Linked DNA regions of Homo sapiens: region 1 is linked to region 2. The links come from fine-mapping of genetic effects on gene expression. Tissue or cell type: whole blood. Region 2 holds a variant in brackets; the other region holds the start of a gene. All regions are shown on one strand. Distances are between the middles of the regions. Region 1 holds the start of SIMC1 (SUMO interacting motifs containing 1). Region 2 has its middle 110 kb from the start of THOC3-AS1.

Region 1 (8,336 bases), 150 kb before region 2:
TGACTCTGTCCATCAGTCGTTACATTGCAGCCTCACTGGCTTTCCATTCTTCCAGTAAGTCATGCTCATTCCCGCCTCCAAACTTTTGGTTTTGTTGTTCCCTTTGACAATGCCTTATTCATCTAGATCTTATAACTAATTTGTTGTCATTTTAGTCTCAGGTCAAATATTAACTCTTCAGAGAGGCCTTCTCTGAAAACACAATCAAATGTTCCCAATCCCACCAAAGTTACTATTATACTGTTCTCTTATTTGTTAGTTTGTTTACTGCCTATCTTTCCACAGTAGAATGTAGTTCCATTATCATCTTGTTCACCTCTGGTCCCCAGGGTTACAGCATATGCTCAATAAATATTTATTGAATAAATGAATCATAATAAAAAAATAAAAAATAATGACATCTTATGGAATCTGGCTATCAAACAGCAAAGATTAAAAGAACAAAAATACCGTATTTTTTCCCCTAACACTCTGTATTATCACCTGACATTACATTTATAGTGTTGTTTACTATCTGTGTCCCCTCAGTAAAATGAAATCTCCATGACGGCAGGGACTTGGTTTTCATAGATGTATTCCCAGCACCTCTAAGAGTGCCTGGTATATAATAAGTGTTCAATAAATATTTATGGAATAATGTAACAATACCTAGGGGTGACTAGGCAGCAGAGAAAGAGATATGATTGGCCATATACCACTGGTAAGAATATTAATGCACAATTTCTGTAGGAAATTTGGCAATACAGTTGATTCATGAACAACACAGGTTTGAACTGCATGGGTCCACTTACAAGAGAGTTTTTTTCAATAAATATATTGGAAAATTTTTTGGCGATTTATAACAATTTGGAAAACTCACAGATGAACTCCACAGCCTATAAAAATTGAAAAAAACTAAGAAAAAGATATGTCCTGAATGCATAAAATATATGTAGATACTAGCCTATTTTATCCATTTACTACCATAAAATCAACACAAATCTATTATACAAAGTTAAACTTTATCAAAATTTATGCACACAATCACTTACTGACCATAGATGGTGACATCTGCAGTTGACAGAAATGTAAAGATGCAATATTAACTCACAACTGCATATTTTTAAATTCATTATTTTTTTCTTTTTAATTTGTATCACAACTGCATAAAATTTACCATAGACTACACTGTACTACCGTGATAATAATGTCCTACTACCACAGACATCTGCTGCTGCTGTGGTGGGCTCAAGTGTTGTGAGGATCCACTTAAAACGCCACGTGACACTAATCAATTTCTGCACTACTTCCCAGTAAACTGTGTATCACGGTAACAAGTGTTCTCTCCTGGGTTTTTTTCCACATATACTTGTTTAATCATGTGTAGGGTAATATCGTAAACCTTGAATAACACCATGAAACCCATACAAAGTGCTTAGTGATGCTGGATGTGCTCTCAAGAAACAGAGAAAAGTCATGACATAAGAAAAGCTGAATCGCTTGAGATGTACCGTAGATAGAGGTCTGCAGCTGTGGTTGTCCCCTATTTCAGACAGATGATTTATCTTGTAAACAGACGATGTAAACCTATGGTATTGACAAATGCAGTATAGTACTGTAAATGTATTTTATCTTCCTTATGATCTTAACATTTTTCTCTTGCTTACTTTATCGTAAGAGTCCATATAACATACAAAACATGAGTTAACTGCTTATGTTACTGGTAAGGCTTCCAGTCAACAGTAGGCCACTGGTAGTTAAGTTTTCGAGGAGTCAAATGTTACATGTAAATTTTCAACTGCACGGGGGGGTTAGCAACCCTAATCCCCGTGTTCTTCAAGGGTTAGCTACATATAAAGTAGGGCACACCTTTTGACTCAGCAATCTAACTTCTAAGAGGAACTTAATAAACAAATGAACAAGAGTACAAAGATTATGAGGGAATTTTTCACTGGGTTCTTAGAGAAAATTTAGAAACGAAGGCATAATATCCATTAAGAGGAGGTCATAAAAACATGTATGGGGAGGACACATAGGTATGTATGTATGCACATGTGTGTATGCAAGTAAACATTTACATAGACATACATCAAAATGTTAACATTGGTTATCTTTGGATAGTGAGATTACGGGCAATTTTAATTTTCTTCTTTATACATTTATAAAAATTGTATAATTAGATCAACAAAATTAACCATCTGAAAATGTTCTGTTTTTATAAGTAAAAAAACGAAAAACAAAAAATCCCAAACGAAAAAGCCATGATAAACACAGAAACACACCTCATCGACTCAGTGAAGACTAAAGCCCAGGTTAAGAATCAAGAGTTCAGAAATGTCAACTTCAGCATTAGACATGGCTTTCTCAAGTTCAAGCAAGTTACTTCCCCTTAGTCAATATCTATTAAAAAAAAAAAAAAAAGATGTAAAAGTTGCTTCTTTTATTTCATTGCCTGTGAAGCTCAAGAGGGACAGGCCTGGGCTTAGAAACAACACAAAAAGTGGCAAAAGCTATCATTTATATGAGATCCTTTCCTTGCATTTGTCTCATTAAAAATTTAAAACCATCCTGCTAGGTAGGCATTAATGTTCTCAGGCTCAAAAGCTGAGAGTTGACAGAACTTTCCAAAACTCAAATAGTTGCTATGCTGGAGATATTGATTCAGAAGTCTCTCTGACCTCAGAGCCTTCAGGAAAAGCTACAAAGAAAAGGGCACTTTTAGACTTTATAACCTTGCAAGTCTCTCAATGCCTCTGATCTTTTACATGGTTATCATACCACTCTTATCTAATTTGCAAAAAAGATAAAACGAGAATAAGCTTGGAGCTTTTAGAGAGCTGGAATAAATATCTGGAGAAGCACGATTTAAATTGGGTACTGCTCTCTGGAACTTGCCCCTCATTTCGATTCAACTCAAAGGCTCAAGATCAAAATGCTTGCTTGAGTGGTCACAAGTGAGGGAAACAGTGAGAGACTACGCCCATGTACGTATGTGAAAGACCACAAAAGACTGAGATAAGCATGGCATCTGACCACTGAAGAAGGAAGCTGGACCAGAATGAGGGAAAATGGACAACACTTGGGAGGAAAGGAAGCAAGTGGGAAGGACAAAGTTAAACAGGTAGTGAGAGAAGAGGCTATAGGAATGAGGAGGAACTAGGAGGAAAGAAGTATTTTTTCCCTTCCACCTTTTTTCTCTCTCTACTCTTTTCCTTGATGATCTCAGTCACTATTAGGCCTTCAATACTCCTTTCTGTTTGCATGATTGCCAAATATCTCCATTCTTGCCTTTTCTCCAACTACTGAGCTGGCCACATCCATCTACATTTCCTATTAACACTGTAAATCCAACAGGTCCAACCTGAATTCAGCATCTCCTTCATCTCAAGCCTGCTGCTACTTTTATATGCACTTCTCTTATACTTATCAAACATCCATCTAAACCATTCTCTCTCCCCATATTCTTTCAATCGTTCCTTCATCCAACAAATACTTATTGTGCATCTATTATGTCCGATACATTCAGCCACAGCCCTAGATATATCCATTCACTCATGAAGTCGGGTCATTTCTATCTTGGAAATCTCTTCTCTCACTACCTCATGAGCTGCCTAACTCAACTAAATTTGTCTCTAAGACGTCCTGAGAAACCCTCTTGCTTGAAAAATAATATATATTAACTAGTTTTGCATGCTATTCATTCTATAGTGATCATCTAGCACTTGGCACTGTACCTCGGGCACAGAAGGGGTTCCCAATGGAGGTTTAGGGACTGTAAACCAGCTAGAAAGGGAACAGGGGCAGCAGAAGCTAGGAAACGTCTTGAACGAGTATTTGCATAGGAAGCATGGTAAACTGTATGATCTATACACATAACATCAGCTTGATAATCCTTGTGTTTCCGGGGGATGGCTCTGGGAGGCTGGGGAGATCGTTGGAAGCCTTCTGAGAGAAAGCTCCACCTCCCACCGCTTGAGTAGGTCCTCAACAACCACCTGATGATGTATCACCTTCTGAGGGGACCATGGATATTGTGTTCGCCGTTGTATCCCCGGCCCCTACAACATCTGGCTCATAGTAGGGATTCAATAAACATCGATGCAGGATTCTCGAAAGGCAGATAATTCACCACCTCATGAACGACAAAGACGAAGGGGTTCTGAGGGAAACAGAAATAGCGCGCGAGGTTTCCTTCCCTATTCCTTCAGGGCTTGGTACAGGGTAAGTGCTGAGGAAATAAATCGCCCTCCTGTACAACTCCAAAATCGGGCCCCTCGCTCTGCAGTCAGGCCCTGGAGCGCGGCCACCATCTGGCCCAGGCCCGCGCTTCCCTCCCTCCCAGCCTGGGCTCCTGTTACCTCCCTGCACACATCTGTGTCCACCACAGGCCGAAGAATTACGCGCTCCCGCTTTCCTGCATCGGCCCGGCCAGTACACCCGAGCCCCCACGTCCCGCCGAGGCTCCGAGGACGCCCGCGGCCCCGGCCTGAGACCCCAGCCCCTGCAGCAGGCGCGCCAGGAGCTCGTCCATGTGCTCGGCCGCTTTCCAGCCGCAGTCCTCTCGGGCTTCAGCGCTGAGCCTGGGAGGCCCGGCCTCCCCGGTCCCTGCCCTGGCCCCTGCCCCGGCCCGCCGCGCTCCCCGGGGCCCGAGAGGCCCGGAAGGAGGCAAGGCGGGAAGTGGCTGCAGCTGTGAGGCGCCAGGGGCGGGAAGCGGGCGGCGGGCCCAGCCGAGGGTCGCGAAGACGCGCGCCCCCAAACGAGGCGACGCTCACTCACCACGGTCCGGCGGGGCAGCGCGCCGGAGGTTCGCGACAGGGCCCGGCGCGGCCTCCGCGACCGGCCCGGGCGGGCGCCCCCGGAGCTCTCAGAGCCGCTGTCGTCCGAGATCACGATGAAATCCTCCATGGCTGCGGGCCCCGACCGAAGACCCAGGCAGTGGCGGCGGCGGCGACGACTTCGGTTCCTGCTTCTGAGGTGGCGGCGGCGGGGCGGCGGCAGCGGCGGCGGCTACAACCCGGGCCACCGCCACGCCGGCCCCGCCCCGAGCCCCGCCCCGCCGGGCCGCCAAGCCCCGCCCACCGGCGGCGGGCGGCTGGGGTCAGGGCCGGGGTCGCTGTGCTTCGTGGCGGCGCGGGTCCTCCGTTTCCCAGGAGGAAAAAAAAAAAGAAAAATGGAGTCGCAGCCGGCTTCGGCAGGTGTTGGGGCCAGGCGTGCGAGACGCCGAGGCCGCGGGGACTTCCCCACCTGCTTCCAACCGACGAAAGCGTGAAGTGAGGCGCGCCCAGTCCCACCCTGCCCAGGTGTGAAGCGCCTCCCGGACTGAGAGGGCCTTGACTGAGGGGCAGGGAGAGAGGTCCTGGCCCCCGAGTGACCGAGGGTAGGTGACCTGGCTTCTGGCCGAGCTAAGGGAGAGAGAGAGACCCCACTTTTTGGTGCACACGCCCATGTGTATCTGTAGGATAAATGCCTAAAAGCGGACTTATTGGGGCAAAGGCCATGTTTTTGTAGTTTTGATAAATGATGCCAAATTACCCTCCTAAATTGTACCAGTTTGCGATTTCACCAACAATATGTGTCTCTCAGGAGTTTAAACTGAGATTTAGAGCAGGGGTGTCCAATCTTTTGGCTTCCCCAGGAAGAAGAATTGTGTTGGGCCATACATAAAATACACTAATGATAGCTGATGACCTAAAGGAAAAGAGTTGCGAAAAAAAAAATCTCTTAATGTTAAACAGGGAGTTAAACAAGTTTGACGTAGACAGTTGTTCAGTTGGTATCAGGATCAGAAGCTGAAAAGGTGCACAAAAGAAGCCATGAAGTAGCAGAGGCCATGAATAATTAGATGTTGTGAATAAGCAGAAGTTATAAAGGTGAAAAAGGTTGTCCCCAGTAGAGGAATCGGTGGGTAGTTGGCTGGTTGGTTGGTTTTAGGGCAGGACCATTAAAATCAAGATAGGACCTATTGGTACACTAAATGTGGGGTATTGACAAAATCCTGCTGCTCAGGCTCCAGAAGTTTTGCAAAATATGTTAACAGATCCAAAGAATAATGTGTTTAATAGGAGGGGAATTTGTTCCTAAAGGAATGGTTATCAGGTGCTCTCCAAGCACTGTCTAATGCAGTGTTTTTCACACTTTGGTGAGCATCAGAATCCCCTAGAGTGTTTGTTAAGACAGATTGCGGCCGGGTGCGGCGGCTCACGCCTGTAATCTCAGCACTCTGGGAGGCCGAGGCGGGTGGATCACTTGAGGTCAGGAGTTCGAGACCAGCCTGGCCCACCTCGTCTCTACTAAAAATACAAAAATTAGCTGGGCATGGTGGCAGGCGCCTGTAATCCCAGCTACTTGGGAAGCTGAGGCAGGAGAATTGCTTGAATCTGGGAGGCGGAGGTTGCAGTGAGCCGAGATCGTGCCATTGCACTCCAGCCTGGGGGACAGAGCAAGGCTCCATCTCAAAAAAACAAAAACAAAAAACTCAACAAAATACAGATTGCTGGGTTGCTGGTATGGTTTGGATCTGCGTCCCCACCCAAGTCTCATGTTGAATTGTAATCCCCGATATTAGAGGTGGGGACTGGTGGGAGGTGATTGGATCATGGGGGTGGTTTCTTATGAATGGTTTAGTACCATCCCTTTGGTACGGTCCTTGTGATAACGAGTTCTCTTGAGATCTGGTTGTTTAAAAGTGTGTGGCACCTCCCACCTCGCCCCTTTCCCCATGTGATGTCCACTCCCCCTTCGCCTTCCGTCTTGATAGTAAGGTTCCTGAGACCTCCCCAGAAGCAGATGCTACTATGCTTCCTGTACTGCTTGCACAACCGTGAGCCAATTAAACCCCTTTTCTTTATAAATTACTCAGTCTCAGGTATTTCTTTATAGCAATTCGAGAATGAACTAACAATCACACATCAGATTTTCTGATTGAGAAAAAGAATTTTGGGGGTGGGGCCCTGAAATTTGCATTTCTAACAAGTGCCCAGGTGATGTGGATGCTGCTAGTCTGGGGACCACACTGTGAGAACCACTGGTCTGGTGGACGGGGAGTTTATGCCCAGCAGATTTCAGACATTCTGGTCCAATGGGTGAAGTCACCCTTGTGAAAGGATTCATTAAGTTGTCTTCATCTAAAGCTATTAAACATTTAGGGTTGTGATCTCTCACACCTGTAATCCCAGCACTTTGGGAGGCCGAGTTGGGAGAATAGCTTGAGGCCAGGAGTTTGAGACTAGCCTGGGCAATATAGCAAGACCCTGTCTCTACAAAAATAAAAACAAATTAGCCAGGTGTGGTAGCGCATGCCTGTGGTCCTAGCTACTCAGGCAGCTGAGGCAGGAGGATCCCTTGAGCCCAGGAATTGGAGGCTGCAGTGAGCTATGATACTGCCCCTACACTCCAGTCGGGGCAATAGGGTGAGACCCTGTCTCAATAAAACAAAACGAAACAAAATACACAACCATTTGGTGTGTCTGACTACCTGCTTGCTGAAACACTGTCTTCTGTAGGTTTCTGTGATGCTGTACTTCTCTCACCACTTTTTTTTAGTCTCCTTAGCTGACGCCTACTCCTCTACTCACTCCTTAAACTCTTGATGTCCCTTAGAGTCCTGACATTGGCCACCTTTTCACACGGGACCTCTTCCCTCTACAATCTCAACTATTCCCTGGCTTCAGTGATTGGTTTTATGCCAATGGCTGCCACGAGTTTATCTCAGCCCAGTCCTGTCCTTAAAACTCCAGTTGTATACATCCAAACATCTGCTGAAGCTCGTAGGCCTCTCAGGTTGAATATGTCTAAAGCCAAACTCACCTTTATGCTCCCCACACCCACAAAAAAGCCTGCTCTCTTTGTGTGTCTTATGGTGATGGCTCCACCAGCCAGCAATTGCTGAAGTGAAAAACCTGAGCATTGCACTTGATCTCTCCCCTTTCCTCAACAAGTCCTGTCTGTTTTACCTCCTAAACATCTCCTGCATCCCTCTACTTCTTTTGGCCTCTGCTGCTGATTCTAGCCAAGCTCTGGCCTACTCTACTGTGGCAAGACACAAGAGTGTTCAGATTGTATCTTTCTCATCAGCCATCCTGCCTGAAATACAGGAAACTCAGGACCCCTGGTGGTATAATACGAGAACAGCTTAAAAGTACCCTGCCCTTACTTGGCAACCCAGGTGGGATGAATACTGGCTGTGAAGTTGCCCTCCTTAAAACTATAAGTAATGTCACTTATGTTTCCTTGGCCATCCTGGATTTGTCTTGAAGTGTGCCGTTTACCCAAGACTTCCAAAGTGATTGTATGTTTTTCAGAAATTGGTGTATTTTTTTTAAGGTGACACTTTTTCATAGACTCACTCCCCCCAAACC
Region 2 (8,336 bases):
CCCTCCTGGGTGATGAGGGAAGGCAAATGAGACCATCAGGAAGCCACAGAAGTCAGGACCTGGTTCTCTGGCTAAGCCCCCACACCACTGCAAAAAAGGCAGAGTTCACACAGGGTGGCACACAAATGCACTGCTGATTTCATGACAGTGTCCCATCACCCCCTTGTGCATTTTGAGGCCCGGTAAATTTCTTTTGTTGTTGAAATGTTATAATGTCATTTATCTTTCCTTGATCTACATATGCTCCTCCTGTACTTATCATCCATTTAATTGGCTTTAAAATCAGTATTGTGGCCAAAATACATCATATTTATTATTTTAATAATCAAGTGCACACTTCAGGGGCATCAGTGCCATTCACAATTCTGTGCAGTAAACTAAATGTAATCCAAATCCAGATGTCTTACTTTCCACCTTAGGAAACTAGAGAAAAAAGTGTAGTGTAATGTAAACCAGGCAACACTCCTCCCCCAAAATATAACAATATTTGCAGAAATCAATGTAATAGAAATAATAAAATAAAGAAACTCAACAAAACCAAAAGCTGCTTCTTAGAAAAGATCAATAGAATTGGTAAACCTCCAGCAAGGCTAATCACAAAGAAAATACAGAAGACACGATGTACAAACAATATGAATAGAAGAGGAATTATCCTTGCTGATCCCATAATCATTAAGAAAATAATAACAGAATACTTTCAACAAATCTATGCCTGCAATTTTTTAAGTGCAGGAGTGAAAGTCTATTGAAAAGTTTGAGAGTAGGAATGACAGGAAGCACAGTAGCCTTTGATGAGAACCAAGCAGGCAACTTGTCAGATTCAAGTGTCTACACCCACAAATTTCCTAGCTTAGATGAAATGGACAAATGCCTTCAAAGGGAGAAACTACCATAACCACCCAAAGGAGAGATAGATAATCTGAGTAGGCCTCTATCATTATAGAATTTAATCAGGAAGTAATAACTTAAAAAAAAATGCCCACATAATTGTACTGGTGAATTCTGCCTAACACAATGGAAAACATAGTCTTACCAGCAAGTGATCAAAATTCTACATATTTACCCAGCTAAATTAGAAAATTATGTTCATCTTAAAATCTGCACAAGAATGTGGGCAGCTTTATTCATAATTACCCAAATTGGAAGCAGCTCAGATGGTCTTCAGGCAGTGAGTGAACCAACTAACCCTGTTCGATGAAACCAATGGACTATTGTTCACTGATAAGAATTATTAAGCTGTTAAGCTTCAAAACGATACAAAAGATCTTACATGTATATTGCTAAGTAAAATAAGTTAGTTATACGTAGCTACATACTCTATGATTCCAACTCTATACAATTCTGGAAAAGGAAACCTATAGAGGCAGTAAAATCATCCATAGTTGTCAGGAATCCTCAGAAAAGGAGAGGAATTAGTAGATGCAGCTCAGGTCATGTGTAGGATGTGAAATTATTCCGTCAGGGTGACAAAAGACATTGTCAGTTTGTCAAAACCCATAGGCTGGACAACACAGAGTGAACCTTGATGCTAACCCTAGATTTCTGTTCATAAGAATGTATCACTATTGGCTCAGTCACTGATGCTAACCTTGGACTTCTGTTCATAAGAATGTATCACTATTGGCTCAGTCATTGTTACGAGCGTTATCACACTCACAAAGATGGGATCACCAAAAAATACTGAGGAAGGTGGGTATATGGAAAGTTTTGTTGCCACTTCCTCCATTTTTCGGTTACTTCCAAACAGTTTGAAGTGATGTCCATTACTTTACAAACCTGGCAACACTGTCTCAGAAAAAGATCCTTTTTAATTAATGTTTTAACAATCAGCAAAATGTCTACAATTTGCACTGAGATGTTATTTACTATTAAAAGTAAACCCAAATCTGGAATGGAAATACACCTTTACTCCTCTGGTTGTAGCACTAGTGATTGACTTAACACATTTAAATATGCACACATGAAATAAAGAATATAGCATCGCAATTTTATAATTGTCTGAAATATGAGACACTGAAGAATCTAGAAATCATATCATGAATGAACTGAATGACTGAATTTCCACAACACCTTCCATTGATGCAACTCTAGGGTATATATGGCCGGGATGCCAGTGATACCAGTGATAGGTGATTGGCTTCTCACGCTCGCGGTGGCAGACGGTGGATTCCCCTGGCATCCTAGGATACACTATTTCATCCTCGCCACAACACACTGGGAAATGAATTAAAATAAAGACAGGTGTTGGTGTCTTGCCGCAAAAGATCAGAGAAATGAGTAATTATTTATTCACAGCTTAAATGTTTGATTCCATTGTTCATCATCTGCAGAGCAAAGCCCCCTGAATCTGAGTTGGGCTTCAGAAAGACTTGCACTGTGGGTTGCACGTATAAGTGTGCAGGCAAATGCCTGTATTGAGATGAGACATTACAGAAAGGTAGTAGATTGGAGTGACCAAGAGCATAGGGTCCGGAGCATAGGATCTGAGCTCAGGGACTTCTGAGAAGCTGCTAGAACCTGAGGAAGTTCTATAGATCCCTCTGTGCCTCCTAATGGCCTACGTTATGTTAAAAGGGTAAGAATAGTTAAATGGACCTAAAGCCTTAAAACGGGTGCTTCCTAAGTGCCATAAAGTGTTCAATTATTTCATGTCTGGAAGAATAAGCCAGGCCCTTGGTAGTGGTTAATAGAGAAGCCACTTGGGGGACTCCAGGGCAGTGGAGGCTAAAATTCTTTTCATTCTTGACATGGGTCTCATGCTTTAGAACTCGTGAAAAGTTTTTGTTTGAATTTCCTGTGATGCCCACATAGGCCCAGAGAGATGGGCAGAGCAGGGGCTGCCACTCAGAGGTGACGGTTCAGGGAAGTGAAATGAAGAGATTTGAAGCGACCTGCCTAGGGTCACAACACTGACGAATGATAGATCTGGGACAAGAATTTGGCTGGTTTTCTGGGGACAGAGATCCCTGAATACCTGAGGCCTCTAAATCATGGCCTGGACCCTGAACCTGGAGCTCTTTCCACTCCCTTTCTCAATCCTCCTGCACCAAGGGCTCTTCAGGAAGGTTGATGTATTTGGAAGAGGTGGTGAGTCCAGAAAAAAGCCAAATCATTTAACAAAACAAAACTCCTGTCTCTAGGTTTTAACTCCTGGGCTAAAATATGGCACTTTCCTGCAAACGAAGCCTCTCTGAGGAACAAATTCAAATGTCTGGTCATCCTACCCATTGCCCTGTATTGTCAGCTGTCTGGCAGTGAGCACCCCTCCATGACCAACTGACCACAGCAAGGGACCAAGTTCTGCTTGGCCCCCAAGGTAGTTCGGAACTTAGGACCTTCCAAACTAACTACCACTTGATGGCTGTGCCAAGAATAAACTTCCCTTCAACTGAACCATTCTGAAGAAGCAATTAATGGGAATTAACTGAAAATGTGGCCCCCCAGTGGATTTTTCAGCAGTTTATTCTGTATCTAGTCTATGAAAGAGTGTGTGTGGCGGGGGAGGCCGGGTGTGGTGGCTCACACCTGTATCCCAGCACTTTGGGAGGCCAAGGTGGGCAGATCACAAGGTCAGGAGTTCAAGACCAGCCTGGTCAATATGGTGAAACCCTGTCTCTACTAAAAATACAAAAATTAGCCAGGCATGGTGGCAGGCACCCGTAGTCCCAGCTACTTGGGAGGCTGAGGCAGGAGAATCGCTTGAACCTGGGATGCAGAGGTTGCAAAGAGCTGAGATTGTGCCACTGCACTCCAGCCTGGGTGACAGAATGAGACTCTGCCAAAAAAAAAAAAGAAAAGAAAAGTCCAGGCTCTGTGGCTCATGCCTATAATCCCATCACTTTGGGAGGCCAAGGAAGGTGGATCAGGAGGTCAGAAGTTCAAGACCTCCCTTGCCAACATTGTAAAACCCTGTCTCTACTAAACATACGAAAATTAGCCAGGCGTGGTGGCGGATGCCTGTAATCCCAGCTACTCAGGAGGCTGAGGCAGGAGAATTGCTTAAACCTGGGAGGTGGAGGTTGCTGTGAGCCATTATCACACCACTGCATTCTAGCCTAGGCAACAGAGCAAGACTCTTCCAAAAAAAAAAAAAAAAAAAAAAAAATTGGCATTGGAAGCAGTGTATTTTCTAGAGAAAAGTATTTGAGGCAAAAATCTTGATAGAAGAATAAAAAAACACAAATTGAGTAATAAAACTCTGAAACATATTTATAAATCTGTAGACAAATAGGAGCTGGGGAAATAAAAAAAAA[T/AT]CAGAATGACATTTAACGTACAGGAAAACTGGCTTATCTGAAGAAATTGCAGTCAGAAGATGGAAATGAACATACATACCTTCGAGGCAACAACTATAAGCACATCCCATTGTGAGTCCTCTGAGACAACTAAGCTGCGTTTACTGCCAACGTTCAGTTGCCAGAATGGCAGTTAAAATGAAAGGCAAGACCTATATCATCAGATCACCTCAGCAACAGGTCACAGTAGAATTTTCGCAAGCATCCATGTCACAATATGGGGCCCAACTGCTGTGATCTAGACCAGTCCATTGTCACATCGACAAGGGGTCACTTAGACTCCATGTTTCATTTCAAAAACTGAATCTCAGACACACAGTATTATTCTATGTGTATGAAACAAACATTAAAGGAGGAAAAAGATTTGCCTCTCAAATATATTTGATAGTGAAAATTTCAGGGTAAAGATAAGAAAAGCTAATACATTGAGAATAAAGGGAGATTCCAGGCTTGATGTGAAATGCCTTCCCCACCAATTTCTACTATTCCTGAGTCACCAGAGAGTCCTAGCTTCAACAATTCTAAACTAGCTCCAAATTACATTTAAAATGCATTAGTGTAACTTCAATTTTAAAGCCAATCTCTAACAATATAATTCATAGTAATAAAAAAAGATATGATTCAGTACAACTTTCCATCACTGTTGATTCATCACAAGTTTTAAGAACTATTAAATCAAATGGGTCATTAATGAGGCACAAAAACTGCATTAATAGGGGGTGGAGCCAAGATGGCCGAATAGGAACAACTCCAGTCTGCAGCTCCCAGCATGAGCGATGCAGAATACGAATGATTTCTGCATTTCCAACTGAGGTACCAGGTTCATCTCATTGGGGATTGTAGGACAGTGGGTGCAGGACAGTGGGTGCAGCGCACTGAGTGTGAGCCGAAGCAGGGCAAGGCATTGCCTCACCCGGGAAGTGCAAAGGGTCAGGGAATTCCCTCCCCTAGCCAAGGAAAGGGATGACAGACAGCACCTGGAAAATCAGGTCACTCCCACCCTAATACTGCGCTTTTCCAATGGTCTTAGCCAACGGCACACCAGGAGATTATATCCTGCACCTGGCTCGGAGGGTCCTACGCCCATGGAGCCTCGCTCATTGCTAGCACAGCAGTCTGAGATCAAACTGCAAGGCTGCAGCGAGGCTGGGGTAGGGGCGCCCGCCATTGCCCAGGCTTGAGTAGGTAAACAAAGTGGCTGGGAAGCTCTAACTGGGTGGAGCCCACCGCAGCTCAAGGAGGCCTGCCTGCCTCTGTAGACTCCACCTCTGGGGGCAGGGCATAGCCAAACAAAAGGCAGCAGAAACCTCTGCAGACTTAAATGTCCCTGTCTGACAGCTTTGAAGAGAGTAGTGGTTCTCCCAGCACACAGTTTGAGATCTGAGAACGGACAGACTGCCTCCTCAAGTGGGTCCCTGACCCCCGAGTAGCCTAACTGGGAGGCACCACCCAGTAGGGGCAGACTGACACCTCACATGGCCAGCTACTCCTCTGAGACAAAACTTCCAGAGGAACAATCAGGCAGCATCATTTGCTGTTCCTCAATATTCGCTGTTCTGCAGCCTCCACTGCTGACACCCAGGCAAACAAGGTCTGGAGTGGACCTCCAGCAAACTCCAACAGACCTGCAGCTGAGGGTCCTGGCTGTTAGAAGGATAACTAACAAACAGAGAAAGGACATCCACACCAAAACCCCATCTGTATGTCACCATCATCAAAGACCAAGGGTAGATAAAACCACAAAGATGGGGAAAAACAGAGCAGAAAAACTCAAAATTCTAAAAATCAGAGTGCCTCTCCTCCTCCAAAGGAACGCAGCTCCTCACCAGTAACAGGACAAAGCTGGATGGAGGATGACTTTGACGAGTAGAGAAGAAGGATTCAGATGATCAAACTTCTCCGAGCTAAAGGAGGAAGTTCAAACCAATGGCAAAGAAGTTAAAAACCTTGAAAAAAGATTAAATGAATGGCTAACTAGAATAACCAATGCAGAGAAGTCCTTAAATGACCTGATGGAGCTGAAAACCATGGCATGAGAACTATGTGACAAATGCACAAGCCTCAGTAGCCAATTCGATCAACTGGAAGAAAGGGTATCAGTGATGGAAGATCAAATGAATGAAATGAAGCGAGAAGAGAAGTTTAGAGAAAAAAGAATAAAAAGAAACAAACAAAGCCTCCAAGAAATATGGGACTATGTGAAAAGACCAAATCTATGTCTGATTGGTGTACCTGAAAGTGACGGGGAGAATGGAACCAAGTTGGAAAACACTCTGCAGGATATTATCCAGGAGAACTTCCCCAATCTAGCAAGGCAGGCCAACATTCAAATTCAGGAAATACAGAGAATGCCACAAAGATACTCCTCGAGAAGAGCAACTCCAAGACACATAATTGTCAGATTCACCAAAGCTGAAATGAAGGAAAAAATGTTAAGGGCAGCCAGAGAGAAAGGTCAGGTTACCCACAAAGGGAAGCCCATCAGACTAACAGCTGATCTCTCGGCATAAACTCTACAAGCCAGAAGAGAGTGGGGGCCAATATTCAACATTCTTAAAGAAAAGAATTTTCAACCCAGAATTTCATATCCAGCCAAACTAAGCTTCATAAGTGAAGGAGAAATAAAATCCTTTACAGACAAGCAAATGCTGAGAGATTTTGTCACCACCAGGCCTGCCCTACAAGAGCTCCTGAAGGAAGCACTAAACATGGAAAGGAACAACCGGTACCAGCCACTGCAAAACCATGCCAAATTGTAAAGACCATCAAGGCTAGGAAGAAACTGCGTCAACTAACGAGCAAAATAACCAGCTAACATCATAACGACAGGATCAAATTCACACATAACAATATTAACCTTAAATGTAAATGGGCTAAATGCTCCAATTAAAAGACACAGACTGGCAAATTGGATAAAGAGTCAAGACCCATCAGTGTGCTATATTCAGGAAACCCATCTCACGTGCAGAGACACACATAGGCTCAGAATAAAGGGATGGAGGAAGATCTACCAAGCAAATGGAAAATAAAAAAAGGCAGGGGTTGCAATCCTAATCTCTGATAAAACAGACTTTAAACCAACAAAGATCAAAATAGACAAAGAAGGCCATTACATAATGGTAAAGGGATCAATTCAACAAGAACAGCTAACTATCCTAAATATATATGCACCCAATACAGGAGCCCCCAGATTCATAAAGCAAGTCCTTAGAGACCTACAAAGAGACTTAGACTCCCACACAATAATAATGGGAGACTGTAACACCCCACTGTCAACATTAGACAGATCCACGAGACAGAAAGTTAACAAGGATATCCAGGAATTGAACTCAGCTCTGCACCAAGCAGACCTAATAGACATCTACAGAACTCTCCACCCCAAATCAACAGAATATACGTTCTTCTCAGCACCACATCGCACTTATTCCAAAACTGACCACATAGTTGGAAGTAAAGCACTCCTCAGCAAATGTAAAAGAACAGAAGTTATAACAAACTGTCTCTCAGACCACAGTGCAATCAAACTAGAACTCAGGATTAAGAAACTCACTCAAAACCACTCAACTACATGGAAACTGAACAACCTGCTCCTGAATGACTACTGGCTACATAACAAAATGAAGGCAGAAATAAAGATCTTCTTTGAAACCAACGAGAACAAAGACACAACATACCAGAATCTCTGGGACACATTTAAAGCAGTGTGTTAGAGGGAAATTTATAGCACTAAATGCCCACAAGAGAAAGCAGGAAAGATCTAAAATTAACACCCTAACATCACAATTAAAAGAACTACAGAAGCAAGAGGAAACACATTCAAAAGCTAGCAGAAGCAAGAAATAACTAAGATCAGAGCAGAACTGAAGGAAACAGAGACACAAAAAGCCCTTCAAAAAATCAATGAATCCAGGAGCTGGTTTTTTGAAAAGATCAACAAAATTGATAGACTGCTAGCAAGACTAACAAGAAAAGAGAGAAGAATCAAATAGAGGCAATAAAAAATGATAAAGGGGAGATCACCACCGATCCCACAGAAATACAAAT

The links.
Region 1: SIMC1 starts here. The variant in region 2 is fine-mapped to the expression of SIMC1 in whole blood (INTERVAL, PIP 0.94).

The regions. Positions count from the first base shown.
Region 1 is chr5:176,235,057-176,243,392 of GRCh38, reverse strand. SIMC1 (SUMO interacting motifs containing 1) reads right to left here and starts at 4,969. Exons shown (of 10, transcript NM_001308195.2): 1 at 4,756-4,969. The coding sequence starts at 4,884. RefSeq lists silencers at 5,008-5,127, 5,178-5,297.
Region 2 is chr5:176,080,990-176,089,325 of GRCh38, reverse strand. It overlaps the pseudogene FAM153B. Among named protein-coding and RNA genes, the nearest start is that of THOC3-AS1, 110 kb to the right of the region's middle. The variant T/AT (reference allele first, on the strand shown) is at 4,254.